Linked DNA regions of Homo sapiens. The protein of the gene in region 3 purifies or fractionates together with the protein of the main gene of each other region. This does not show direct contact. Each region holds a gene or a part of one and is shown on either strand. Other genes may lie near its edges.

Region 1 (7,302 bases), on a different chromosome or scaffold from region 3:
TATTCAGTCTTTTCAAATTCTTACTTCGAATAAATGCACATTATACAAAGCTAGCGTTTATCTGTTTTGTTCATCTGAAGTGAACTTAAAATTGTAGGGTTCTATATTCATTAGATAGCATGTTGATTTCTTGAAGGGGTGGCACAACACAAAACTACAAAATCAATGTATCCTCAACTGATTTTTAAAAACCAAAAAATTGCGGGAAGAAAATGTACCTTGCTAGATCAAAAGTTTTCCACACAACCAACTTGAGGTCAAACAAACCCACGCAGAATCTTCAAAGAACTTCAGGCTGACCTAAAGCATATTTTTTGCTACAGCCAAATTAGAATACTTGCCCTATTTAGTTGTGAATATCTCAGTATAAATGACTTTACAAAAAATCTGGTAACTTTACAGACAGAATTTTACAACAGTGAAATTTGTTCCATAATATAAAATCCTACCAAATGAATAGAATCTATCATTTTAAGGGCATCAGGGATTTCTGCCTGTTGAAGAGTGGAGGATTGAGAAAGGAGCAGTGGCTCATGCCTGTAGTACCAGCTGCTCAAGAGGCTGAGGTGGTAGGATTGCTGGAGCCCAGGAGTTCAAGGCTGCAGTGAGCTGTGATCACACCACTGCACTTCAGCCTGGGCAACACAGAGTGACACTCCATCGCATGCATGCATGCAAACATACATACGAGTGGAGGAACACCTGCCATAATTAAGCCACTTAGAGAAAAAGAGACTTAAGTTAAAACAAAATTCAACATAGAAAAACCGTCACTGCCTATACAGCACTCATGTCAGAGTGTTCCATGAGGTCCCCCAAAATGCACCTACCGTCCCAGCCAGGATGTCATGGGGGCAGCAGTCCAGAAGGTGACTCTTGCAGACACGGTCATCTGTAAACTTGACCCTCTGTCTGGTTTCGTCTCCTGAAATTCATTTGTGGTTTTAAATAAGACAATATTATCACATTAACCACCAAAAAATAACTAGTATAACAATTCACCTGGATGATTTGCAGACTATCATTTCTGTGTTCTCCCCATCAAATGCAATGAAAAGCTGATCTAAAGATATTTACAACTGGAGTGGAATACACATTTTTTTGAGGCTAGTTATATCATGGAGAATCACACTTAATGAGATCTGACTCCATCACTGTACCAAAGAAGTCAAGGAGTCAGACGTAAACAGCTGAGCACCAAAAGGCCATTGGCTCCACATATACATGTGGCAATGAGACTGCAAAACCCAAGCTAATCAGAGGTCCATGAACCACCAAGGGTGACTTATAGAGCTGGTAATTTCCACCAACAAAAGCTACTTATTAATCTAATCTTTTTGTTATGAACAAATGCAGAGGCAGTATTTTGCCCAAAATTGAATGAAGAAGAAAGCTTTCAAACTCTATCGAAGACTGTTAAATAATCTAGATCTATTCTTCCTACGTCCCTTTCGTTCCCACCCTTAAAAAAGAGAGTTGCTACCTGGGAGTCACTTTTAACAAGACAATACCAAAAAAAGCAAAAAAGGAACTAGGTTAGTCAATACACACTGTGAGCTCCAACACATACTGTACCCATCTGCATTCTTCAAGACCTCAGCTGCAGAATTTTATGCCCGCTGTTGAAAAGTGTTAAAGGAAAAGTTTTCTTGCCCACACCTGCAGTAAGGAAGTCGGGGGAATGATACATAAAAGTAAAGGTAAAGTGGTATGTGACAAATTTTAAAGCTAGTCTGTGTATACAACACAGAGCTGTGCAACGCTAGAGGAGGAATATATTTTAGGATTTGCAAGCATCCAGGATTAATGTAGTGTCTTTTTATTGAAAATGTTTTCTTTCTAAACTACACTTTTAAAGTTACTTGTGAAAAAAAGCAAACACTTTTTTGTTATAACAGCTTAGAAATTGGTTGTGACTCACGGCTCGATGAACATGAGGCTTTCTGCAACTCCCTTGCAGATTGATGTAGGCAGGCAAAGATACACTGAACCTTTATAAATAAAATAGAGGGGCCACAATTGTTCAGTTTGTATGAAATAAAAATATGGGAAGCAATTCAAAAGCAACTCAATATACAAAGAAAGCTAAAAAGCACTTATTCACCTATGAAATAAAGTGCAAATAATCTGCACAGCCCTGAGAATGTGCCAGTGTGAACTTACAACTTCATTACTCAGCAGAAAAGAAAACACAAACCACAGCAGGTATATAGTTTTGCAAAGATGCAACCGCTTTCTCCTGTGACAACCATCATGATCTTGAGCTCCTCCCTACACAGTACAACCTACCTAACGACTGTCAAGCGCTGGCTACACAGAGGCTCTCCTGTGTGCTGGGGGGAAGGGGGCAGCTGGAAAAGTACTTGGCAGAAACCCACGTTAGAAAAGCTCAGTTTACGGTTCCCCTTGCAATGGTACAGAACCAGAGCGGGCCAGGTTTTCGAGGCCCATCCGGCTCCCTCGGGTGTAGCTTCTTCCCAAGGAGCCTCGGAAGAGTTCTGCCACCCGGCTGCCAGCGACCTGGAGCCCACGCTGATTCCAGCCCTCCGCCGACTCCACAGTTCGCGGAGGGGCACGGAGCCGCGGCGCCCGCCGGGGAGGAAGTAGCAGGACGGTACATAGGAAGGAGGCTGAAGCCCCATCCATGGCGCAGACTCCGAGAGAGGAGCCCGACCTGGACCCACGGCCGCCTCAGAGACGCACCGGCTTAGACAAAGGCCCGGCGCCTGCGGTCGGAGCGCGGGGGAGGAGGAGCGATGCCCCGCGCAGGCGCAGGCGCAGACGATCGCGGCCCCCGCCTCAGGCCGCCCGGCGGCCTCGCCTCACTCCCACCCCAGACCCTCGCCTGGTTGGCCGCTCTGACTCACCGTCCCGAGCCGTGCCCATGAGCTGGTCCAGCAGGGCCCGCATCTGCGCCTGGGCGGACATGGTAGCCGGCGGAGGCGACGGGGTCGGCCGCGACGACTTCTCTCAGGCAGGCGGTGGCAGCGGCGTCGACAAACGATGGTCGCGTCGGCCTCGAGCCCACTCGGCTCTTTCCCGCCGCGGGGGACGCCGGGAGGAAGTACGACGGCGCCGGCGCACGCCCTGCTGGGAAATGTAGTTTCTGGGGTGGGTGCTTAGGGAGGCTGAGGCTCTGAGTGGTCGCAAGTTGTCCAACGGCGGAACCAAAATCCCAACCCTGATTTTACTCTAGACCCCCAGGACCTCAAACGAGTCTCTACGGAGGGTAAACTACAATAAAATGAAATACAGTCAATCAAAAACAAGATGAATCCGTGCTTTTTCTAAGCTAGCCATGAAACCGTGAGCATATTATTTAGCTCCCCGACGCTCGTTTTTTTAAATCTGTGAAATGAGGGTTCTAAAGGTGCCCCTCATATGATTTTTGTGAAAGTTAAATAAAGCATGGAATTTTATTTATTTATTTATTTATTTATTTAGAGCGAGGGTCTTGCTCCGTCGCCCAGGCTGGAATGCAGTGGCGCGATTACCGCTCACTGCAGCCTCGACCTCCCCGGCTCCTTATCCTCCCGCCTCAGCCCGGCAAAGTATTGGGATTACTGGTGTGAACCACCACGTTTGGCCATCAGTCATGGCATTAATATTAGGTTCTATGATTACAACCTCGTGGTCGTCCTTTTGTGAGCTCATGGTCTACTGTCCCAGGGACTAAAGAAAAGGCATATGTAAGCAGTTATTTTATGTGATAATAGAATTATAGCATGCACTTATGTGTGCATAGTCTGGCATATACTTCTATTATATTAAACCTCTATTATTTATTTATTTATTTTTGAGACGGAGTTTCGCCCAGGCTAGAGTGCAATGGCGCGATCTTGGCTCTCCGCAACCTCCGCCTCCTGGGTTCAAGCGATTCTCCTGCCTCAACCTCCCAAAGTGCTGGGATTACAGGCATGAGCCACCACGCCCGGTCTTTATTTTTTATTTGTTTATTTTTTTTTTGAGACGGAGTCTTGCTCTGTCACCCAGGCTGGAATGCTGTGGCGCGATCTCGGCTCACTGTAAGCTCCGCCTCCCGGGTTGAAGCGATTCTCCTGCCTCAGTCTCCCCAGTAGCTGGAATTTCAGGCGCCCGCCACCCCCTCCGGCTAATTTTTGAATGTTAAGTAGAGACGGGGTTTCACCATGCTGGCCAGGCTGGTCTCAAAGTCTTGACCTCAAGTAGCCAGCCACCATGCCCAGCTGATTTTTGTATTTTCGGTAGACACGGTGTTGTACCGTATTGGCCAGGCTGGTCTTGAACTTCTGACCTTGTGATCTGCCTGCCTCGGCCTCCCAAAGTGCTGAGATTACAGGCGTGAGCCACCGCGCCCTGCCGTATTTTATTTATTTTTGAGACGGAGTCTCCCTCTGTCGCCCAGCCTGGAGTGCAGTGGCGCGATCTCGGCTTCCTGCATCCTCTGACTCCTGGGTTCAAGCGATTCTCTTGTCTCAGTCTCCCCAGTAGCTGGGATTACAGGCACCCGCCATCATTCCCGACTAACTTTTTTTTTGTACTTTTGCAGAGACGGGGTTCCGCCATGTTGGCCAGGCTGGTCTTAAACTCCTAACCTCAGGTGATCCGCCCACCTCAGCCTCCCAAAGTCCTCGGATTACAGCTGTGAGCCAGAACGCCAGGCCCCTGCTCTCTATTTAAAATAAATAAATAGGGTGTCCGTTGGGCTGCTCGGGTCGGATTCCGCGGTGCCAGCCCTTCCCCATGGCCGACCCTGAGAAGTTGCAGGTTTCTTCGCCGCCCCCGCCGCCTCCTTCTCCCTCCTCTTCAGACGCCTCTGCAGCATCTTACCCTGGCAGCCCAGTGAGTTTGGGCTGGCCAGTTCCGAGCAGGAGCAGCGGCCGAACGGTGGACCCGCTGGAGGAAGTGGGGCTGCAGATCGGAGACGCAGCCTTTTCATTAACCAAACTTCTTGAAGCCACATCTGCAGTATCAGCTCAAGTGGAAGAACTTGCCTTCAAATGTACAGAAAAGGCACGTTTCCTTAAAACGTGGCGGGACCTATGGAAAGAAGGCTATGATTCTTTGAAACCTGATGACTAATTTGGCATACTTCGTTGTTTAATAATGACTGCAATAATTCATACTTCTTCTTATGTCATATTTGTACGTGTACCACACGTATAGGATGACCTCTGTCCAGCAGTTCTGTATATACTCAGAATGAATTTTTTCTTGGTTTTCTTGGCTTTTCTGAAAGCAGAATACCGATGCTATTTTTGTTGCGGACCAGTACTTGTTTGTCCTTACATACTTCATGCCTCTGAACTTTCGTAGAATCCTTTATGAAAGTTAACTTCATCAATAGATGGTTAATATTAATAGAGCCACAGGGCTACCAGCAGCAAACTAGGTGGACCATTATTTGTTTTGAAACAAGATGCTAAGCATGGCAGAGTTTGAAGTTGCATTTCATCTTAAGGACCAAGGGAGGTAACTTTAAGGTTGCCAGTGGTGGATCCAGCTCCATTAGGCTACGTTGTCTACAGCTAATGATTGTGCTTCATTCTGTATCCCCAGCACCTAAAACAGGGTCACACAACACTCACTGTTGGTTGAATACAAGAATTAACAAACATAAAAATAAATAAATAAATATAGGCCGGGTGTGGTGGCATGTGCCTCTAGTCCCAGCCACTCGAAGCTGAGGTTGGAGGATGGATTGAGCCTGGGTGGTTGAGGTTGCAGTAAGCTGTGATCACACCACTGCATGGCAGCCTGGGCAAAAGAACGAGACCCTGTCTTGGCCAGGCACGGTGGCTCACACCTGTGATCCCAGCACTTTGGGAGGCCAAAAAAAAAAAAAAAGAATGAGACCCTGTCTCAAAAATGAAATTAAAACTTAAAAAACATGCCAGGCTGGGGGCAGTGGCTCATGCCTGTAATCCCAGCACTTTGGGAGGCCGAGGCAGGCGATCACCTGAGGTCAGGAGTTTGAGGCCAGACTGACCAACATGGAGAAACCCCATCTCTACTAAAAATACAAAATTAGCCAGGCGTGATGACGCATGCCTGTAATCCCAGCTACTCGAGAGGCTGAGGGAGGAGAATTGCTTGAACCTGGGAGGCAGAGGTTGCGGTGAGCCGAGAATGCATCATTGCACTCCAGCCTGGGCAACAAAAGCAAAACTCCCTCTCCCCCCGGCCAAAAAAAAGGCCGATCACAGTGGCTCACGCCTGTAATCCCAACACTTTGGGAGGCCGAGGTGGGTGGATCACAAGGTCAGGAGTTCAAGACCAGCCTGGCCAACATGGTGAAATCCTGTCTCTACTAAAAATACAAAAAAACTAGCCTGGTGTGGTGGCACACGCCTGTAGTTCCAGCTACTCAGGAGGCTGAGGCAGGAGAATCACTTGAACCCAGGAAGCGGAGGTTGCAGTGAGCCAAGATTGTGCCGCGGCACTCCAGCCTGGGCGATAAAGGGAGACTCCATCTCAAAAAAAAAACAGGCCGGGAGTGGTCTATTTTGACACTCCACCTCAAAAAAATTAATTAATTAAAAAATAAAATTTAAATTTTAAAAAATCATTTCACAAATGATAATTTAATATGATTGCTGCCCTGGAAGGGGGAAAAAAGACTTACTCTAAGAATACAACAAAGACTGTTCATGGGCTAGAAGCATCAAAAGTCCAGACACGGTTAGACAAGTTTTGTTTTCATTTATTTTGAGACAGAGTCTCACTCTGTCGCCCAGGCTGGAGTGCAGTGGCGCGATCTCAGCTCACTGCAAGCTCCGCCTCCGAGGTTCACACCATTCTCCTGCCTCAGCCTCCCAAGTAGCTGGGACTATAGGCGCCCGTCACCACGCCTGGCTAATTTTCTTGTATTTTTAATAGAGACGGGGTTTCACAGTGTTAGCCAGGATGGTCTAGATTTCCTGACCTTGAGATCCACCCACCTCGGCCTCCCAAAGTGCTGGGATTATAGGCATGAGCCACTGTGCCCGGCTGACAAGTTTTAAATAATGTTTTAAGGCATGACTTTGCTTCCAATTGGCCATTTGAACAAAGCAATTAAATCATCTGAATTACGCACCTACCAAACTGCCACAGTTACTAGAAATCAGACAACTGCCAGGCACAGTGGCCCATGCTTGAAATCCCAGCACTTTGGGAGGCCAAAGCAGGAGATCACTTGAGTCCAGGAGTTCAAGACCAGCCTGGTTAATATGGCAAAACCCCATGTCTACAAGAAAGGAAAAAAATTAGCTGGGCATGGTGGCTTACAGCTGTAGTCCTAGCTACTCCGGAGGCTGAGGTGAGAAGATCACTTGTGCCTGG
Region 2 (6,111 bases), on a different chromosome or scaffold from region 3:
AGGACGGCAGAAGGGTCCAGAGAGTCCGAGGCCCGGGCCCAGGGAGCGGGTCGGGAACAGAGGCACGACATCGGCGGGAGGTCGGAGGCGGGCAGTGGAACCCTTCTTGGGAAGCTCGGTTACAGGGGCCAACAGAGCGAGGAGCTGCCGCCCCCTGGTGGTAGTTGTGGGAGGCACCAAGGTGGCAGGCAGGTGACCAAACCCCTAATTTAACCGTGCACAGGACCAGGAACCAGAAGAGGACCCACCCTCCTAGCCCTGCTGGGGTGCCGCCACGGACACAGGTTGCTCCATGCCTTCCCGAATGAGGAAGGTCCACAGCTTTGGGTTGGTCAGGGCCAAGGCAGGGGATAAAAGACGTGGGAAGTTCAATAAGCAGGAAGCAGTCAGCCTAAAGGAACACATGGAATGAGAGCAACTCCTACTCCAGATATCCTCAGATGTCCACGCTCAGATATCCACAGTGGCTTCTTAACCTGCCCAAAGAAAGCCACTCACACAGTTTAAAACTAAGTCAGATTTTTATTTTTTTTTCCATAGACCACATCATTTAATAATAAAAAAAATAAAAATAAAAATTGAACAAAAGGAAAAGGTGGATATAAAGTGGAACCTGTGGGAAAGAGGCAAGGGCTGCAGGACAGAAGAGACTGGGAACTGCAGGGGCCCTGGGACTCAGGAGGAGATGCTGATTCAGCTCATAGGTGACCCAGTCCTGGCCCCGGCTGTTCCCAAGAGAAGGCTGTAAGTACCCAGGGAGGTGGTAAGCAGGATGGAGGAAAAATCAGAGGACTGGGGCACCTGGCTGTTCCCCATCTCTGGCCAACCACCTCCTTGCCTAACCTAGCTCTTGCCTCTCAGACTTAATGGGAAATGAGAGGGAGGGTCGGGCTAAGTCCCAAGAGATAGGTTAAGGGGGTGTGTTTGGGGGGAAAAGGATGGCCACTTTTCCATTTGGTATGTATGTAGGGATAGGTGATGTGAAAGACCCTTGGCTCCAGGGTGGTGGAGACTGTGCCTATCCCTCTGTGGCCATAACCCCCTGGGGCCGAGTGGCTGGTACCTGCAGCTCTAGTGTTTTCCCAGCTAGCGGCGCCCACCCCGGTCCCGCACAGGTGTGCTCCGACTCCGGCTTCTGCTGTGGCGCTTGGTGTCCCTGCGATCCCTTTCCCTGCCTCGTTCTCGGTCCCTTTCCCTATCCCGATCTCGGTCCCCCCTGTCCCGCTCCCTTTCTCTCTCTCTCTCCCTGTCCCTCTCCCGACTGTGCTCCCGACGTTTCTCTCGCTCCAGCTGTCGGTTCCGTTCCCGCTCGGCTTCCTTCTCCCGCTCCTTTTGCTCTTCTTCTTCTTGCTCCTTTCGCCGCTTCTCCCGCTCCTTGGCCCGTTCGGCCCGCTCTGCCTCTTTCTGAACGATCTGTAGCCAGGTAGGAAAGGCAGAGAATAGGCAGCTCAGTCCTGGTCACAGCCTCCATTTGTGCCTGGACCCTGCCTCCTAGCTCAGGGTCAGCTTTTCAGTTAAACAGGAAGGGGTTGGGGGCTCAACAACTGCATCCTGTCTTTCTTAGAGCACCTCTCTCCCTCCTAGTTTCAGCCTTTTTTTTTTTTTTTCTGAGACGGAGTCTCGCTCCGTCGCCCAGGCTGGGAGTGCAGTGGCACGATCTCGGCTCACTGCAAGCTCCACCTCCCGGGTTCACACCATTCTCCTGCCTCAGCCTGCTGAGCAGCTGGGACCACAGGCGCCCGCGACCACGCCCGGCTAATTTTTTTGTATTTTCAGTAGAGACGGGGCTTCACCGTTGTTAGCCAGGATGGTCTTGATCTCCTGACCTCGTGATCCGCCCGCCTCAGGCTCCCAAAGTGCTGGGATTACAGGCGTGAGCCACCGCGCCCCGCCAGTTTTTTTTTTTTTTTTTTTTTGAGACAGTCTCACTCTGTCGCCCAGGCTGGAGTGCAGTGGTGCTATCTTGGCTCACTGTGGTCTCCGACTCGCAGGTTCAAGTGATTCTCCTGCCTCAGCCTCCCTAGTAGCTGGGATTACAGGTGTCTGCCACCATGCCCCACTAAGTTTTGTATTTTTAGTAGAGATGGGGTTTCACCATGTTGGCCAGGATGGTATCAAACTCCTGGCTTAGATGGAGGCTTAGATGATCCGCCCACCTCAGCCTCCCAAAGTGCTGGGATTACAGGCATGAGCCACCATGCCTAGCCACCAAGTTTCAACTTTTACACACATTGACAGGTACTGGCACCATCCATGCCTGGCCCTTGGTATTTCCCTAGCTCCCTACCGTCAGCGTAGATGTGAACAAATCTCTTTTTTGAGTAGCATAAGCCTAAAATTCCCAAAAGGCCCATTACTAAGAAACTAAGTTAAAGATGCAAAAACTCTTAAAAAGCAGGGAAATGAATTTATAAAACACGATTTCTCAGCTAAATACAATCAAGTTCTTTTTTTTTTTTTAATTGTCTGAGACAGAGTTTTGTTCTTGTTGCCCAGGCTGGAGTGCAATGGCACGGTCTCTGCTCACTGCAACCTCCGCCTCCCGGGTTCAAGCAATTCTCCTCCTCAGCCTCCCAAGTAGCTGGGATTACGGGCGCTTGCCACTGCACCCGGCTAATTTTTGTTATTTTTAGTAGAGACAGGGTTTCCATGTTGGCCAGACTGGTCTGCAACTCCTGACCTGAGGTGATCCACCCGACTCGGCCTCCCAAAGTGCTGGCATTAGAGGCGTGAGCCACCACGCACGGCCTAAAATCAAGTTCTAAGAAGCCTGGTCGGCACAGCCAGCTTCCCAGACATCCACAAACTTCAGCTGCTATCTGCGTGTCTATCTTTACCCTCCTGAGTCTGGTTTCTCTATGTTATACCAATTAACTGAAAACTGCCTTTTTGTGATGCTTAGTTTATCCTAAACCTAGGAAGTACTTGGGCCGACTCACTCTCGCAGTCACATGAATCTCCCCTCACCCTGACCTCAAGCCTCAGTGCCACTAGGGAGCAGGGCACGAAGAAGAGCACTCACCTGGCTGTCAGTCAGTGGGAGCCAATAGATGCAGGGAGCTGCCTTGGTCTTTCGGAAAAGGTCATCCAGCAGCTTGGCAGGTGGTTCCTCCTGGGCTTTCTCTGAGGTGGAAAAAAGTGAACCAGATATGATGCATCTGACCCTCTGTCCCATCCCATCTGGGTCCCTTTCCCACCTACTAGTGGGTATGCGTACCCCATAGCTAAGTACCTACCTTTCTTCTCACTCTTCTTTTCTTTAGACTTCGCACGTTCCTTGCGGCGGCGGTCACGGGACCTTGATCGGGAACGGGGCCCTTCTCGAACTTTGTCCCGATCCCATTCACGCTCTGATCGAGTCCGCTCCCGCCGCTCCATTTCCCGTTCCCGTTCTGCCCACTGTTCCCGCACTGCCCGTTCCTGCTCCCGCTGCTCTGCCCGGGGGTGCTGTGGTGGCTGGACCGGGGGTGGGGGTGGGGGGTGCAGGGGCCGTGGTATTCCCTGCTCCTCTGTCTTAGTTTCAGAGGGACGGTCCACCAAGAGGCCTCGGTGATAATCCAGCTGTGGGGAGAGGAGGGACAAGGACAGTTAGGATAGAGGTGATATCACTCCCACTCAAGGAGCCAGGATGGCCGGGCGCGGTGGCTCACGCCTGTAATCCCAGCACTTTGGGAGGCCAAGGCGGTCAGATCACGAGGTCAGGAGACCGAGACCATCCTGGCTGACACGGTGAAACCCCGTCTCTACTGAAAATACAAAAAAATTAGCCGGGCGTGGTGGCGGGCGCCTGTAGTCCCAGCTATTCGGGAGGCTGAGGCAGGAGAATGGCGTGAACCCGGAAGGCGGAGCTTGCAGTGAGCTGAGATCGCGCCACTGCACTCCAGCCTGGGAGACAGCGAGACTCTGTCTCAAAAAAAAAAAAAAAAAAAAAAGGAGCCCAGGTACCACTTTGAAGCCCCATGGTACAATTAAAGGAACCAAAGCCAGGGAAGAAGAGAAAAGAACAGAAGCTCAGAGACTGCAGGTCTGGCAAGGATCTCAGCTGAAATCTAGCAGATAATGGCTTCCCCTGCCCCTCCTCTCTTTCCTCTCCCTAGGTTTCTTACCTCATCTTGCTCGGCATAGTCAGCACAAAGGAATTTGGGATTGGACTGGGGCCATTTGACCCCGTGCAGAGCTGTGCGGGTGGCAACAGCTTCCTCTACTGTTGAGTACTGGTGGAGGAAGGGAGAAGATGGAGGGTCACAGTGTGTCTGCAACCCTTCCCACGTGCTGCAACACCCTTAAACCTGCCCACACTGGTCACAAAAGGAAATATATGCCATGACCTATAGAATCAGCTTCTTCCCCTCACCGTTACAAAGCAATGAGATTTGATCTTGTCAATCCAGAAGGCCTCTTCCACCAAGGTTCCTGTGCGCCCCAACAACTCCTTTAGCTGGCCTAAAGTGAAAGGACGGACCTGCCAATGAAAATAGACTTTCAGGGTCTAGCAGAAGGCAAGACCACCACCCAATCTTTAGATTTCCCGAGCTGCTGTCACAGGAGTATAGTTTCAAGGTTTGGGGGAGGGCAGAGAGTTTAGGAACCTTGCAGTAAGAATGTGAGAAGAGTGGTGGTGCTTCCCAGCACTAATTGAGACGTTGTATGTGAGGCCTTCTGCAAGTCCTCAAAACAACCCTGCAGGGCAACAGCTTTTCCCCCTCATTTTTAGATGGGTAAATATGTTAAGTAACTCACTCAAGATCAGTGAGTAACTTAATCTATTGGTAGACCAGTTCAACTATGAGTGGAACCTAGGAGGCATAAGCCTAAAGCTCAAACTTAACCACTAAGCAAGCTGGGATGGTGAGAAACAATGACTTACCAAATTGGAGATATGGACAATGTTGCTAATCTTGCCCCGGGGTGGGGAGGGCACCTGGGCAGTTCGGACTGGGTCATCAATGGTAATGGAAACTCCGGACTTCTGCTGGCTAATGGAACGTCGAGTTAAGGTATCTCCTAAAGTCACTATCAAGAAGACCACAAGAACAGCTTTTGGTAGGAAGCAATACTGGCTCTTTTCACCCTCAATGTAACTCTCACGGTTCCCTTTCTTTTATACCAAGCAGCCACTCCTTAATCTAAACGTGCAGAGCACCTATAATCTGCAAAGTACTGTGCTAGGCTAACCTCCTCATCATGGAGATTCAAAGATTAAACAGAGTCAAATCTGGCCCTCAAGTAGCTTACTTAATATGTAGGAGAAAGATATGATATACGAAAAAATATAATGAAAGGCAGGAAACATTCAAAGCTTTCAGCGATCCAAATGAGGTGCTCTGAGAATTCAGGGAGCCGCATTACATTTCTCTCACAATATGTCACTCACCTTTCTTTACTTCATGCTCTGCAGGTGGGGGCAAGGCCACCTCTACTGACACCTGGGGAGGTACAGGAGGTTCTGCTTCAGGTTCCTTCTCTTCTTCCTCTTCTTCCCTCTGCCCATTCTCCTGGCCCTCTGCAGGTACTACCTATCAAGGTGTCAGAGAACACAGCAGGTCTGTTAAACACCAAACTGGCATATTCTTTTCAGCCTCTGGTTCCCCGGTAAGAGTAGCAGTCAATCTAGCATGTTCCTTCCGCTAGGGGTATTTCGTTATCGGCTCACTTCTACCAGATCCTGGGATTGTTAGTGCCTCAACTTTGCCTTGAGGAAAACTAAGACAGGAGTTAGTAAATTTTTTCTGTAGAGCAAAGCAGTACTTCAGGTTTTGCAGGCCACATAGTTTGTTGCAACTACTCAACTCTGGTGATGTTGTAGTGAACAAACAGCCACAGACAAAAGTGAATGAACTCGTGTGGTTGTGTTCCAATCAAACTTTATTTGTAACAGGTAGCCAGCTGGATTTGGTAGTCTGACCCCTGAAAGTGTCAGTCAACCCAACCCTCTGCACAGACAGGGAAGTTCCCTCCAAAGACTTTATCTCAGCTCCTCAGCTAGCTGCTCTGCATCTACTGCTCCCACCTTTCCCCTGACACTGGGGTGCAGAAGCCTTACCTGAGTGACTGTCCGGCATATTTTCAGCCCCTTGTCATGGGTCCCATCATCGCCATTACGCTCTGTCT
Region 3 (7,953 bases):
ACTTCCCCCACCTGACTCTACTTGTCCTCCAGACATATACAGATGTTGCTTTCTCTGCAATGTTTTATCTGAATTAACATCCTGCCCCACTCCAACCAAACGCACTGGGTACGTCCTCAGTTCCTCATTATGTATTCTAACACTTAACACTGCAGCCCAAATGGCTTCTTTGGTTATCTATCCCGACATTACCTTCAGCCAGCTACTTAAGGCAATGGTTTTAGCATATAACCAATAAGTATTTGTTGAACAAAGGAATGAGCGAGTGACCCTGTGTTTGAGTATCTCTTCCTGAGGCCTCACCTTCGAGAACGGACATGGTAGCTGTCCTCTCGCCGACGCCGTCGTGTCCGGTCACTACTACTTGACCAGGAGCGACTTCTTCGTCGCTTATGCTTTCGGCTCCGATAGTGTTCACGGTAACTCCCCCGGCTGCCTCGCTCTGAGGAGTGGTACCTTCGAGGATGCGGCATCTGGAAGGCAAGGGAAAGCGGAAATAGGAAAGTTTCGAGTTTTCAGAAATCTCCTCCAAGGACTGGCTGCTCCAAAGATGCTAAGCTGCTTTCCCCTCTTATTTCTGCCTCTTTTTACCAGGCACAACTTCCTCAGTCTTCCTCTGTACTTACAATTCCTCCTTATTGGAGTACAGCCACCTACTAACTCTGGCTGAAACTCTAGAAAGCCCCCAAACCCATCCCTCATTACCCACCCCTCAGTTCAAGTGTTCTTATTTTATTCTTGAGACAGAGTCTCGCTGTGTGGCCAGGCTGGAGTGCAGTGGCACAATCTCGGCTCACTGCAACCTCCACTTCCCAGGTTCAAGCAACTCTCCTGCCTCAGCCTCCTGTGTAGCTGGGATTACAGGCACGCACCACCACTCCTGGCTAATTTTTATATTTTTAGTAGAGACGGGGTTTCACCATGTTGGCCAGGATGGTCTCAAACTCCTGACCTCGTGATCCTCCTGCCTCGGCCTCCCAAAGTGCTGGGATTACAGGCGTGAGCCACCGCACCCAGCCAGTTCAAGTGTTCTATCCTTATTTTCTTCAAACACAGCTCCATGAAGACCTTCAGGTCTAGGACACAGTTCACTACAGAGCAAAGTGTATGACGACCGATGGAGACTGCCACAGTGTATCCCCGTTCAGGATCTAAGATATAGATCTGTGTGATGCTGAGTTCCTCACAAGTCAATAGAGTAAAGCTTTGGTTTACAGTTATGATAAATGTTGTACACTCATTAAGAGTACATCTCATCTCCTCAAGTAGACTATCAGTGTCCTGAGGGTAGGAATCCAGTCTCCCAGGTTTCTACATATACCAGGTAAACGCCAAATACTATCAGCTCCAGGGATCTGGGTCGGGCCCCTTGAATTAACTTAATCATCTCTCACATCTTTGGCCAACTCTCCCTTGAGAGGTTTTAATGTAGTAGGCCACAAAATACAGTCAGCATCCCATCTGGCCCCTCCACTCTTGTGCTTAAGACGTAGATAACAACTGTTTCTTGTGTTTTTTTTTTTTTTTTTGAAACGGAGTTTTGCTCTTGTTGCCCAGGCTGGAGTGCAATGGCGCAATCTCGGCTCACCATAACCTCCGCCTGCAGGGTTCAAGCGATTCTCCTGCCTCAGCCTCCCGAGTAGCTGGGATTACAGGCATGCGCCGCCACGCCCAGCTAATTTTGTATTTTTAGTAGAGACAGGGTTTCTCCATGTTGGTCAGGCTGGTCTCGAACTCCCAACCTCAGGTGATCCGCCCGCCTTGGCCTCCCAAAGTGCTGGGATTACAGATGTGAGCCACCGCGCCTGGCCAGTAAGTGGTTTTTAATTAATATCAGCCCTACTTAGCTGACAGCTGGCCACCTTCCAGTTAATGGAATTGGAATGGGATGGTTCACAAATCCTTTTTTTCCTTCAAGGAAAAAAGAGAAAAATCACTGTCACAATCCAGGAAGATGAGAATAGGAAGGCACAATAAAATGAAACAGGCCCAGGGACATAAGTCTTGGTGGGGGTGTATGAGAATCGCGTATGCAAAAGGTTTAATGATTCCGATGTCTGACCACCATTCTGTATCACTTCTTCCCAACCTCCCCAAATTGAGGAGGGTGGTATTTGATGCATTCTTGGTGTAACTGGGGCCGGTAGCATACCAAGCTGCAAGCACAAGATTTTCCCAGCATAGTTATCCTAATCAGCATAGCCACATAAATGCCATCTCACCACATACTACCATCAAACGGCCTCACAGCACTGTCCCCTCAAAACATCACTAGCCTACCTTTCTCAAGTTTGAAATCTTTTGCTTTTTCCTTTCTTACTCAGAAAATCCAGAACTCCTACAGGCAAATTCTTCCTGCATGTTCCAAGTGACACGGTGATGTATTCCTCCCCTCCAGCTTTGATTGGACCCGAGTCCAACTTTGATATTCCACTCCTTCACATCTCTGGAACCACTCCCATCCTTACTCTATCATCCCTTCTAGTCTGGTTCCGCCCAAGCTTCCTACAGGTCTTCTTGGTACATCTAACGCAGGCCGACCTCCTTCCCCCTCATCTCCCTACTCCGTCGCTTCGTAGGTCTCAACTCTCCTCCTCTCCAAATCTCGCCCCCGTCCCTTGCCCCCAACCCAAGCCTAACCCCGCCCGCCCCGCGGTCGCCATCTTTTCGCGCGGCCAGCCAACCCGCGCGCTCACCGTTCTGGCGGCGAGGCCCGTGCGCTTGTCCCACAGGAAGTCCGTGATGGCGGCGACACTGCGGCCGGAGTCCCGGCACCCCCGCGGCGACGAAATGCTGCTCCACCCCCCCAACCCGGGACCCTGGGACCTCCCGCCCCGTTCCCGGGCTCCGCTTCAGTCCCGCCCGCCCCGGCTCCGTCCCCGCCCCTAAGATCTGCTTGGCGCCGCTCGCACCGCCCCCGCCCGGGGCCCGATCCCAGCTCGGTCTCCGGCTCTGGCCTCTCCGCTCCGCCGCCGCCGCCGTGAGCGAGCACGTACGCACGGACCGACGTCCTGCGTCGCTTCCCAGCTACCCCCTGGGCTCCGCCCCCAGGACCGCGCGCGCCACCACGTGCTCACGTAGTTGGCAGGCATCCGCCTGTCAGAGCCTCGGAGGTACTGGGGGCGGAAGTTCATAGGGGCGAGGAGGGTCCACAGGGACAAGCTGGAAGCCTTCCAGGCCCGCTATGCCCCGCCTCCTGTCCTTTCCCACTCCGTCTTCAATCTTTTACCCTTTGCATGGAGACGTGTGGCTTAGTTAGGTTTGGAGTTTAAAAGAAAGGATTGTCATTGTCAATACAGTGTCGCTGCTCTGCAAGCCTGACTGTAGTGAGGCTTGATGGTGAAGTCTCATTCTTCTGCATAGCCTGAAAATAACCATTTCTTAAAACACTTCACCTACCTATCCCCAGGACAAAAGTCTGCCACCTTTTGTCATCAACAAAAGTTATGCACGACTCGGGGTGGGGACACAGCCATGGAGGAAAGGTTTGAGCAATGGAGGGTTGGAGAATCGGGTGCCGAAAAGGGGGACTTACTTGAGAACTGTATCCTAAGGTGGCTTACATAATGTGTGAGAAATACAAGTTTACTAGGGCCGGGCGCGGTGGCTCTCGCCTATAATCCCAACACTTTGGGAAGCCGAGGCGGGCGGATCACGAGGTCAGGAGTTCGAGATTAGCCTGATCAACATGGTGAAATCCCGTCTCTACTAAAAATACAAAAATTAGCCGGGCATGGTGGCGGGCGCCTGTAATCCCAGCTACTCAGGAGGCTGAGGTAGGAGAATCGCTTGAACCCGGGAGGCGGAGGTTGCAGTGAGCCGAGATCGGGCCATTGCACTGCAGCCTGGGTGACAGAGCGAGACTCTGTCTCAAAAAAAAAAAAAAAAAAAAAAAAAAGCGCGCATCACCACGCCCAGCTATTTTTTTTTTTCTTGTAGAGATAGTGCCTCACTTTGTTACCCAGGCTAGTCTTGAACCCCTGAGCTCAAGCAATCCTCCCCCATCGGCCTCCCAAAGTGCTGGGATTACAAGCATCAGCCACGGCGCTTGGCCAGTTTACTAAATCTTAAAAAAGAACAGGAAGGCTGGGCGAGGTGGCTCACGCCTGTAATACCAACACTTTGGGAGGCCAACGTGGGTGGATCACTTAAGCATAGGAGTTTGAGACAGCCTGGGCAACAGGGCAAAACCCAGACTCTTAAAAAAATACAAGGCCGGGCGCGGTGGCTCACGCCTGTAATCCCAGCACTTTGGGAGGCCAAGGCGGGCGGATCACGAGGTCAGGAGATCGAGACCATCCTGGCTAACACGGTGAAACCCCGTCTCTACTAAAAATACAAAAAATTAGCCGGGCGAGGTGGCGGGCGCCTGTAGTCCCAGCTACTCGGGAGGCTGAGGCAGGAGAATGGCGTGAACCCCAGGGGGCGGAGCCTGCAGTGAGCCGAGATTGCGCCACTGCACTCCAGCCTGGGCGACAGCGAGACTCCGTCTCAAAAAAAAAAAAAAAAAAAAAAAAAAAAATACAAAAATTAGGCCAAGCGCGGTGGCTCATGCCTGTAATCCCAACAGTTTTGGAGGCCCAGGAAGGTGGATCACTTGAGCACAGGAGTTCGAGACCAGCCTGGCCAACCTGGTGAAACCCTGTCTCTACTAAAAATACAAAAATTAGCCGGGTGTGATGGCAGGTGCCTGTAATCCCAGCTATTTGGAAGGCTGAGGCACGAGAATCGCTTGAATCCAGAAGGTGGAGGTTGCAGTGAGCCGAGATGGTGCCATTGCACTCCAGCCTGGGCGACAGAGTGAGACTGTGTCTAAAATAAAATAAAATAAAAAATAAAAATTAGCCATTCATGGTGTCTCCCACCTGTAGTCCCAGCTACTCGGGAGGCTGAGGTGGGAGGATCACCTGAGCCTGGGGAGGTTGAGGCTGTAGTGACCCGTGATCGTGCCACTGCACTCCAGCTTGGGCGACAGAGTGAGACTCTATCTCAAAAAAAAAAAAAAAAAAAAAAGAAAAGAAAAGAAAAAAAGAAAATGAGAAAGAGAAAGAGTTAGAGACTTTACAGAAGGAATTGAGAAGTGGTCAGAAAGGTCAATTGAAAGAGAAATAATATAATCTGAGAATAACGATATTAAAGTCAGGGAGCTGAGCAAGGTGGCTCACACCTGTAGTCCCAGCTACTCAGGAAACTGAGGTGGGAAGATTGCTTTGAGGCTGCAGTGGGTCATGATCACACCACTGCACTCCAGCTTGAGCAACAGAGCAAGACCCTGACTCTAGAATGAGTAAATAAATAAAGTCAGGAAATATTAGAGAGGAGCTGGATGAAGGATGGTCAGATGGAGGTTAGATCAGATAACCAGACATAGTTTAGAGAAGTTCCCTGGAATAGAACATGGAGAGCAATCAATGAAGGAGTCGGGGAGAGAGAAGTAAAGATTTCACTTCCACCTCCTGGAACATTTTCCTAGATTATTAATTCATTCAACAAGCATTTACTGAATGTCCACTATGTGTCCAGAATTATGCCAGGTGCAAGGTTCCTGTTTCTCAGAGTTTCACAATCTAACAGGAGAGAAAATCTGTAAATAAATAATGAGACCATGCTCATGCCTGTAATCCTAGCACTTTGGGAAGCCAAGGCAGGAAGATCACTTGAGCTCTGAGTTCAAAACCAGCCTGGGCAACATAGTGTGACCTCATCTCTAAAATAATAATAATAATGGTAGCCCTGTGACATGAGTTGCTCAAAACAGTGGTGCCCTGGCTGCTGTAAAAAAGCTCTAGAATAGACCCTACCTGAGGAAAGGAGAGTTGGAAATGTGTTCCTAGGTTTCCTAGAGAAAGCAAGATCTGAACCAACTGTTCGAAAGTGAATTGGAGGAGAATACCAGGCAGAGAAAATATTTGCAAAAGCATAGAGACAAGGCAGCACAAAGTCTTTCAGCATGATTGGGGCTGTGGCTTTCAAGAGAGGGACTGTCAGAAGAGAGACTGTTGAAACTAGGTCCAAATTTTTTGGGCCTGGTACACCATGCTAAGCAGCTTAAATGTACCCCTGTAGAAGATGGGAAAGCTTGATGGGCTTCAAGCAAGTGACACAGCCATAGTTGGATTTTAGGAAGGTAACTGGCAGGGAATGGAAGAAGAATTGGCCTGGAAGAGGTTGAAGACTCTTTTAGAGGTTTCCGAAGTAATTTAAGTGAAAAAATGCTGAGGGCTTGAAATGAGGCAGTGGTAATAAGAATTGGAGATGAAGGGGAGAATTTGAGATATTTAGGAATTTGTAGCACTTCGCATAGCACTGCAATTTACCTGTCTGTCGTTGGGCACAGATGAGCAGTGGCTTTATGGCTAGGCCTTTGTTTTTGTTTTGTTTTGTGTTGTTTTCCATTACTACATGGAGATGCTAAGACTAGGACTTTTGTATTCATTTTTGTTTCCTCAGCATCCACTCAATGACAGGCAGAGTTGCACTTGGTGAAGGCTGACAGAATGAATTAGGAAATTAAATACTAGGGGAAGCAGTTCGGAGGAGACCAAAAGACAAGAATATGCCTAGGACAGTGTTGAGAGAAGACGGGAGCAGGACAGAAGTCCCTGGGCGAGAGTGGAGAAGAATCCCAAAAGCCATTTCCACTTCTTCCATTGGTCCCCAATCCCTCTCCCTCCCAAGTCCTTCAAGCTACAAACCCGCGTCCGATTTTCCCGCCACTGCAGGGGGCTCCTCCTCCCTGGTTCTCAGTGGATGAAAGGCCAACGCTAGGCCACGCCCTCTCCCTGGCTCAGGCTGCGCTCCCCGCCTTCTTTGCTAAGCCACGCCCCTCTCGGAGTTCCTCCAGGATCCCGGCGTCCCAGCCCCGCCCGGTCTTGGCGCGGCCCTCGCCAGGGGGCGCCGCGCAGCCCGCCCGCCGCCCGCCAGTCTAGCACACACCCCCTCCGCCCCGCGCGCCGGCGATTCCGAGCCTACGACGCCTCCGCTAGAGCCCGCGGGGCTGCGCCGACTCCTGCTCTGGAGGGGTTGCGGGTACCTGATGGCCACAGAGGGCTCTAGGAGGCCGAGCGTGTAAGCGGGGTGGGCGCCATGGAGGCAGAGCAGCGGCCGGCGGCGGGGGCCAGCGAAGGGGCGACCCCTGGACTGGAGGCGGTGCCTCCCGTTGCTCCCCCGCCTGCGACCGCGGCCTCAGGTCCGATCCCCAAATCTGGGCCTGAGCCTAAGAGGAGGCACCTTGGGACGCTGCTCCAGCCTACGGTCAACAAGTTCTCCCTTCGGGTGTTCGGCAGCCACAAAGCAGTGGAAATCGAGCAGGAGCGGGTGAAGTCAGCGGGGGCCTGGATCATCCACCCCTACAGCGACTTCCGGTATTGGGGGCTTGGCGGGGAGGGCAGGGTACATCAATCCCACCCTCGCGGGCAGCGACACCGGGACCCGGCCCGCCCCACCCTCCACGGTCACTTCATTTCCAGCCCGGGGTCCCTTGGTGGGGCGGGAGAGTCACTTGCACCAGTCTAGCCTGGGAATTCCTGGGCGGGTATCCCCTGCCGGAGGTCCTCCGTGCCTGGACAGGCTGGGGGCACCAGAAGGGGCAAGCAGACATCAGGGGATCTCCAGAGACCTGGATTTCCTCTTTCAGGAACCCGGGACCCCATCCGGACCAAAGGAACTACCAGAGTTTGGGACCCCTGCCTCCTCCAGTCCTGCTTGCTGGAGATCTAGGAAATTATATTCTAAGTATCGGGGCCAGTCTGAGGGAGAAGCCGAGCTCCGCCATCTCCCATCCCCACACCCGCTCCTTAGCACCTGCCTAGTTCAGCATGACAGACTACCAGGAAAAATAGGGACGCTGAAGGGGGCGGGGGGTCCAGACCTCAGCTCTGGTCGCTGTCCCTAGTGCTGAAGGCGGGGGCGGCGGGGCGGGGCCGAGACTCAGAGTGACTGAGGCGGCAAAGC
Region 4 (5,505 bases), on a different chromosome or scaffold from region 3:
ACAGACTAAGACCCTGTCTCCGAGAAAAAAAAAAAAAAAAAAAAAGATTAAAATGGCCCCTGCACAAGGATGACATGCAAATTCATCAAGCATTCCATATAAGAAAAATTCCTTTCACATACTATGATCAGTAGCGCTTAACTGAAATTACTGAAAATTACTTTCCCCTCAAGCATTCATTATACCCCCATTACTACCCCTCCTATAGTAGAGCTTCAAGCCAATACTAGCCTTTTCTGTAAGCAACATGAATATTGTTCAGATTTTCCAGGTACAAATCAGTAGACAAAACTTAATTTGTATAAAGGATTTTAGTGCATACAAACTGTCATCAAATAAGGTGCTTTTTAACCAGGTTAAATTTTATGATCATCCCTTTAATTCACTATTTACCAACCTCTTTCCTGCCAGGGCACACAGGAAATGAAACATTTTGCTGGATAAGCCACAGATGAAGGTACTAGTGGTGGAACTGGCTCATGGATACAGATTGCTGTGCAAAGCTCTATGCATTTACTGTTTTAATAATTACTCCAATAAAAGGATTTTTAAAAAGAGATCTTTTAACACATCCACTTACACAAGTGAGTTATATACACACAAAAACTAACTGGAAATACTTCTTCACATTTTCACTGTAACCATTTACTTGTCAAGGGAAGGCAAAATGAATATTCAAAGTCAAGGCTAAAGCTACAGTGTTAAACTCAAAGAAGGATGCAATTTAAGTGCTCTCTTGTATAAAGCATCAGAAAGTTAATACAAGTACTAGTCTTAAGCAGTCACACAAGTCTAAGCCACATTTATTTGCACATGTATAGTAATGGCCAACAGATACTCCAAGTTCATACAAATTTGTAAAACAACAAAGTTAATAATCACTTGGTACACTTGTGTGTTATCTTGCTTACATATTAAAACCTAGATGAACTTCCTTCATTTTGTGGACTTCCATACAATACTTCCTTAAACAAAATTCTTGAAAACACATATCAGCATGTTTAAGTTAGAGCCAACACAAAGTTAAGACAAGACACAAACTCAAAAACCAAGTTTGAAAGATACTTTTCTACCTCCCTCCCCTAGAAAGAAGTGATTTTCTTTAACAGATGTATGTTATATCACACAAGTAACCATGAAGACAAAAGAATGACGCTCCCATCATCAGGAAGAAAATGCCAACCAGATCATACTGTTTAGTTATCTACCGAACATATGGTTAAAATATGAGAAACGGGGGAAAATGCTTAGATTAAAATAACAAGGGAGAATAGAAAATAGCAAATGATTTTAAAGAGAACTGTTCCCCCTCAAAGCTGCAAAGCTCTGACTCTGACAACTAAAAACTGTCCAAGGCAAATAAAAACGAGGAAACCTTCAAAAACATTCTAATCACGTGCAGTATCTAGTGTTAAAAGCTGAAAATGATAAAGAGGATATTTATTATACAAGTGTCAACGAGGACATCCCAAAAATAATGAAATAAACACACATTTATTTCTACAAAAGCAATGTATGATACAGAATTAGAAGGGAACAGACTTAAAGATTTGCCTATTAAAATATACAGATTCTTACTGAAGAGTATAGGATATTTAAAAAAGATGACAAGGGATGTTAATCTTTTTTTATTATTATCATTTTTACATATTTTGGAACCTCACATAATTTTGATAAATAACTCTTACAAAATTATGCAAAAAGTACAAGAATGTCTGGTAAACAAACAGTCTGTATTTTCCAAAAAGATTTTTTACAACATGCAATTCTTAAGGCAGCATCCTCTTTACAAGGAAAGGTAATCCTTTTTTATCAAGAAATCTTCTGCTGCAAAGAATGGCTAAGAAAGCCTGGCTTCTTCCATTAACGCCTTTTGTCTTTCCTGTCTGATTTTCGGTCTCTTTCACTTCTTGAAGATCTTTTGCCTGATCGACTACTCTCTGATATAGACCTCTTTCTGTCGGACCGGGAATTCTTATCCTTTGATCCTTTTGTATCTCTACTACTACCACCTTTTGAAGATTTGTGACTTCTTTCTAGTCCTGAAGTATCCCTTCTCTTCCGATCCACGCTCCTTCTGTGCTTTCTATCTCTATTATGTCCCCGGCCCCTACTCCGACTTCTACTCTCACTACTACTACTAGTGCTACTGCTACTATCTCTGCTGCTGCTGCCACTTGTACTGGAGCTGCTACTGGAACTACTGCGACTGCTACTACTTCCACTGCTGGAACTACTTCCACTGCTGCTACTGGTTGAACTGCTACTAGAACTGCTACTGCTACTGCTTCGACTTCTACTCTTGCTTGTTTTATTTCTAGCTCGACCTCTACTTCTGCTCCTAGTTTTGGTTTTGCTCTTGCTCTCTGGATGTACTGTCAAGACTGGCTCTACTGGTACCTCAGTGAGTTTTACAGACTCTACAGGAAAATCCTTCCTCTCAGGTAGTAAATGCCCTTGCTCCTGAGTAACTTGGGGTGTTGGCTGTAAAACAGCTAATGACAAATCCTCAGGCTGAGAGGGAGGCTGGGACTGGAGTACTGGTTGGGACTGGGATTGAAGCTGAAGCTGGGGCTGAGACTGAGGCTGAGGTTGAGCCACAGGCTCAGGTTGGGGCTCAGATTCTTTTTCTTCTTTTTCCTCAGACTCCTTTTCCATGTCTAAAGCACTGACATTCTCTTTCCCAGGAGAAAGGGTTTTACATTCTTTATCTGGCTCAATTTCAAATTCCATTTCTGGTTCCAATTCTTTGCTAGCTTCATTTTCTGAAGGTTCTACACTTTCAACTCGATTAGTTTCCATTACCTCCTGGTCAGCAATTACATGTTTGACATTCTCAACCATCTCTAGCACATCCATAACTTCTTCAGGCTGACTATCCTGCTGCTTCTCACTTTCCCTTACCTCAGTTTCCTCCTCCATCTTAACCTCCATTTCCTGTTTTTGTTCTTCCTCCTCCTGTTCTTTCTCTGCATCACTATGAACAATCGCTATTTCCTTTTCCTCTTCCTCTCCTGCTTCCTCTATTTCTACATCATTGTGCTGATTACCTGTCTCCTCCAACTCTTCCTCTCGCTGAGCCACCTTACCCTCTTCTTGTTCCGCCTTCTGTTCTTCATTACGCACCACCTGATGCTCTTTTTCCTTCATTGATTGTCTTCTAGGCCTAGCCTCCATTTTATTTATTTGTTCTGCAAATTCGATGCGTCTACCTTCAAATAAAGCTAAAGAATAAAAATTTACATGTGTAAAATTTACCGATTAAGAAAATTCAAAGCCATAATTTTATAACTGGTCACAAATTGTCATTAAGCTTCATCTGAATTTGTTTTTGTAAAGTTATGACAAAAGATTATGGCAATTAAGTAACCACAAACTGACATAAAATTATAAAAGCAAAGATCCATGGGAAATCTACATACTAGAAATTGTGGCAGACAGAACTACACATTTTCTAACTGATGAAGAAAACAGATCAATCTTTATGTCTGATGAAAAATAAAACTTCTGTAAAACAGAACCAGTTTTGGCATAAAATCATATATATTAATTTTTCTGATCCCAAAGAGATAAATCATCATCTTAGCAGTGTCTATCCTTCCATGTGTTTTCCATCTAGAAACTGAGTTGGTTTTCACATTTGTCTTATTAGCATTTTATCAGAACAATAATAGCATGCAAAAAAAAGTAATTTTACACAAATGCTTAAGGAATACAGATGCATAAGCACTGTCTATAACTTTCACATTAAACTCCATCATGATACAAATATTCCTATACTACAAACTCACCAGCATCTCAGAATGTATCTTTTTTTTTTTTTTTGAGATGGAGTCTAGCTCTGTTGCCCAGGCTGGAGTTCAGTGGCGTAATCTCGGCTCACTGCAACTTCTGCCTCCCAGGTTCAAGTGATTCTCCTGCCTCAGCCTGCCAAGTAGCTGGAATTACAGGTGCCCACCACCATGCCCAGCTAATTTTTTTTGTATTTTTAGTAGAGACTAGAGACGGGGTTTCACCATGTTAGCCGGGATGGTCTCGATCTCCTGACCTCATGATCTGCCTGCCTCAGCCTCCCAAAGTGCTGGGATTACAGGCGTGAGCCACCACGCCCGGCCTAGAATATCTTATTATCTTATTTAAAAAAAAAAAGCAAACACAGCAAACCAATCACTGAATCATAATTATTTTAGAAAACAAACGTGTGCATATGAACATATTACCTTACCCACTATGAACAATTCAATGGACCTCTTCGCATACTTACCGTTCATTTTTCTCTGTGACTCTTCTATTAGTTTTTGGGTAGCTGGACACATTCTTCCAGGAATATAAAACAAATGGGGCTTTGTCTTAGTTCTTATATATTTAATTATTTTGGCATTATGTTCATTCCATTCTTCTTGCTAAAGAAAAGGTAAAGGGTCAGTGCTTTTGTAAACACAAAGGATTACCAATCTTAGAATTCCAAATTACCACTCACCAGCTGCGCAAGCTCAACTTTCTGTTCCAAAAGCCGCAGTTCTGTCTGTTTAGCACGCCTCTCTTCAAACAGTTCTCTCCTTTCATTTTCAACCTGCTTTCTCTCTTCTTCTGCCTGAACTTCAAGTTTTTGTTCAATTTCCTGGCGCCGCTTTTGCTAAAAGTTAAGTAGCCTGCTTTAATACTTACGTGTTGAAATAGTTACAACAAAAGGTATATATGATTTCAGTTCAATTATGATAAAAAGTTATTACACATACTAATTACGTGAAACATTAGAGGCAGGTAGATCATCTGAAGTCAGAAGCCAACACCACCATCTCTACTAAAAACACAAAAAAATTAACAGGGCGTGGTTGCACGCACCTATAATCCCAGCTACTTGGGAGGCCGAAGCAGGAGAAATCACTTGAACCCCAGAGGCGGAGGTTGCAGTGAGCTGAGATCACGCCACTACACTCCAGCCTGAGCAAGAAGAGCCAAACTCCATCTCAAAAAAAATTTTTTTTTTTTTTTTTTTTTTCACTATGTAAAGGTATCTGCAGGCCGGGCACAGTGGCTCACACCTGTCATCCCAGCACTCTGGGAGGCTGAGGTGGGTGGATTGCTTTGAGCTCAGACCAGCCTGGGCAACATGATAAAACCCCATCTCTACAAAAAAAAAGAAAAAGAAAAAAAAAAGGTATCTGCATATGCTTCACATTTTTTCTTTTTTTGAGATGGAGTTTTGCGCCTGTTGCCCAGGCTGGGGTACAATAGTGTGATCTTGGCTCATTGCAACCTCACCTCCAGGGTTCAAGTGATTCTCTTGCCTCCGCCTCCCAAATAGCTGGGGATTACAGGCGCATGCCACCACAGGCGGCTAATTTTGTATTTTTAGTAAAGACAGGGTTTCACCATGTTGGCCAGGCTGGTCTCGAAAAACTTCTGACCTCAGGTGATCCACCTGCCTCAGCCTCCCAAAGTGCTGGGATTACAGGCATGAGCCACTGCACCTGGCCGCTTCACATTTTCAATTCAGGATAC

What was found.
Region 1: the proteins of CLK2 (region 3) and LUC7L purify together in Homo sapiens (affinity purification with mass spectrometry; 4 studies listed by BioGRID and IntAct, with this or other methods). This does not show direct contact.
Region 2: the proteins of CLK2 (region 3) and ACIN1 purify together in Homo sapiens (affinity purification with mass spectrometry; 4 studies listed by BioGRID and IntAct, with this or other methods). This does not show direct contact.
Region 4: the proteins of CLK2 (region 3) and PNN purify together in Homo sapiens (affinity purification with mass spectrometry; 4 studies listed by BioGRID and IntAct, with this or other methods). This does not show direct contact.

Annotation. Positions count from the first base shown.
Region 1 is NC_000016.10:226,412-233,713, forward strand, and holds the start of LUC7L (putative RNA-binding protein Luc7-like 1), read right to left. Parts: upstream 3,039-7,302; 5' UTR 2,929-3,038; coding exon 2,868-2,928; intron 1,992-2,867; exon of another isoform or gene 926-1,991; coding exon 831-925; intron 1-830. UniProt on the Homo sapiens protein: May bind to RNA via its Arg/Ser-rich domain.
Region 2 is NC_000014.9:23,058,062-23,064,172, forward strand, and holds the end of ACIN1 (apoptotic chromatin condensation inducer in the nucleus), read right to left. Parts: coding exon 6,044-6,111; intron 5,517-6,043; coding exon 5,375-5,516; intron 5,014-5,374; coding exon 4,868-5,013; intron 4,463-4,867; coding exon 4,355-4,462; intron 4,215-4,354; coding exon 4,107-4,214; intron 3,562-4,106; coding exon 3,237-3,561; intron 3,124-3,236; coding exon 3,023-3,123; intron 1,414-3,022; coding exon 1,087-1,413; 3' UTR 503-1,086; downstream 1-502.
Region 3 is NC_000001.11:155,270,505-155,278,457, forward strand, and holds the start of CLK2 (dual specificity protein kinase CLK2), read right to left. Parts: upstream 3,001-7,953; 5' UTR 2,697-3,000; intron 474-2,696; coding exon 304-473; intron 1-303. Other genes in the region: HCN3 (potassium/sodium hyperpolarization-activated cyclic nucleotide-gated channel 3), read left to right, coding at 7,087-7,364. UniProt on the Homo sapiens protein: Dual specificity kinase acting on both serine/threonine and tyrosine-containing substrates. Phosphorylates serine- and arginine-rich (SR) proteins of the spliceosomal complex.
Region 4 is NC_000014.9:39,178,222-39,183,726, reverse strand, and holds the end of PNN (pinin), read right to left. Parts: intron 4,637-5,505; coding exon 4,481-4,636; intron 4,404-4,480; coding exon 4,265-4,403; intron 3,225-4,264; coding exon 1,864-3,224; 3' UTR 507-1,863; downstream 1-506. UniProt on the Homo sapiens protein: Transcriptional activator binding to the E-box 1 core sequence of the E-cadherin promoter gene; the core-binding sequence is 5'CAGGTG-3'. Capable of reversing CTBP1-mediated transcription repression.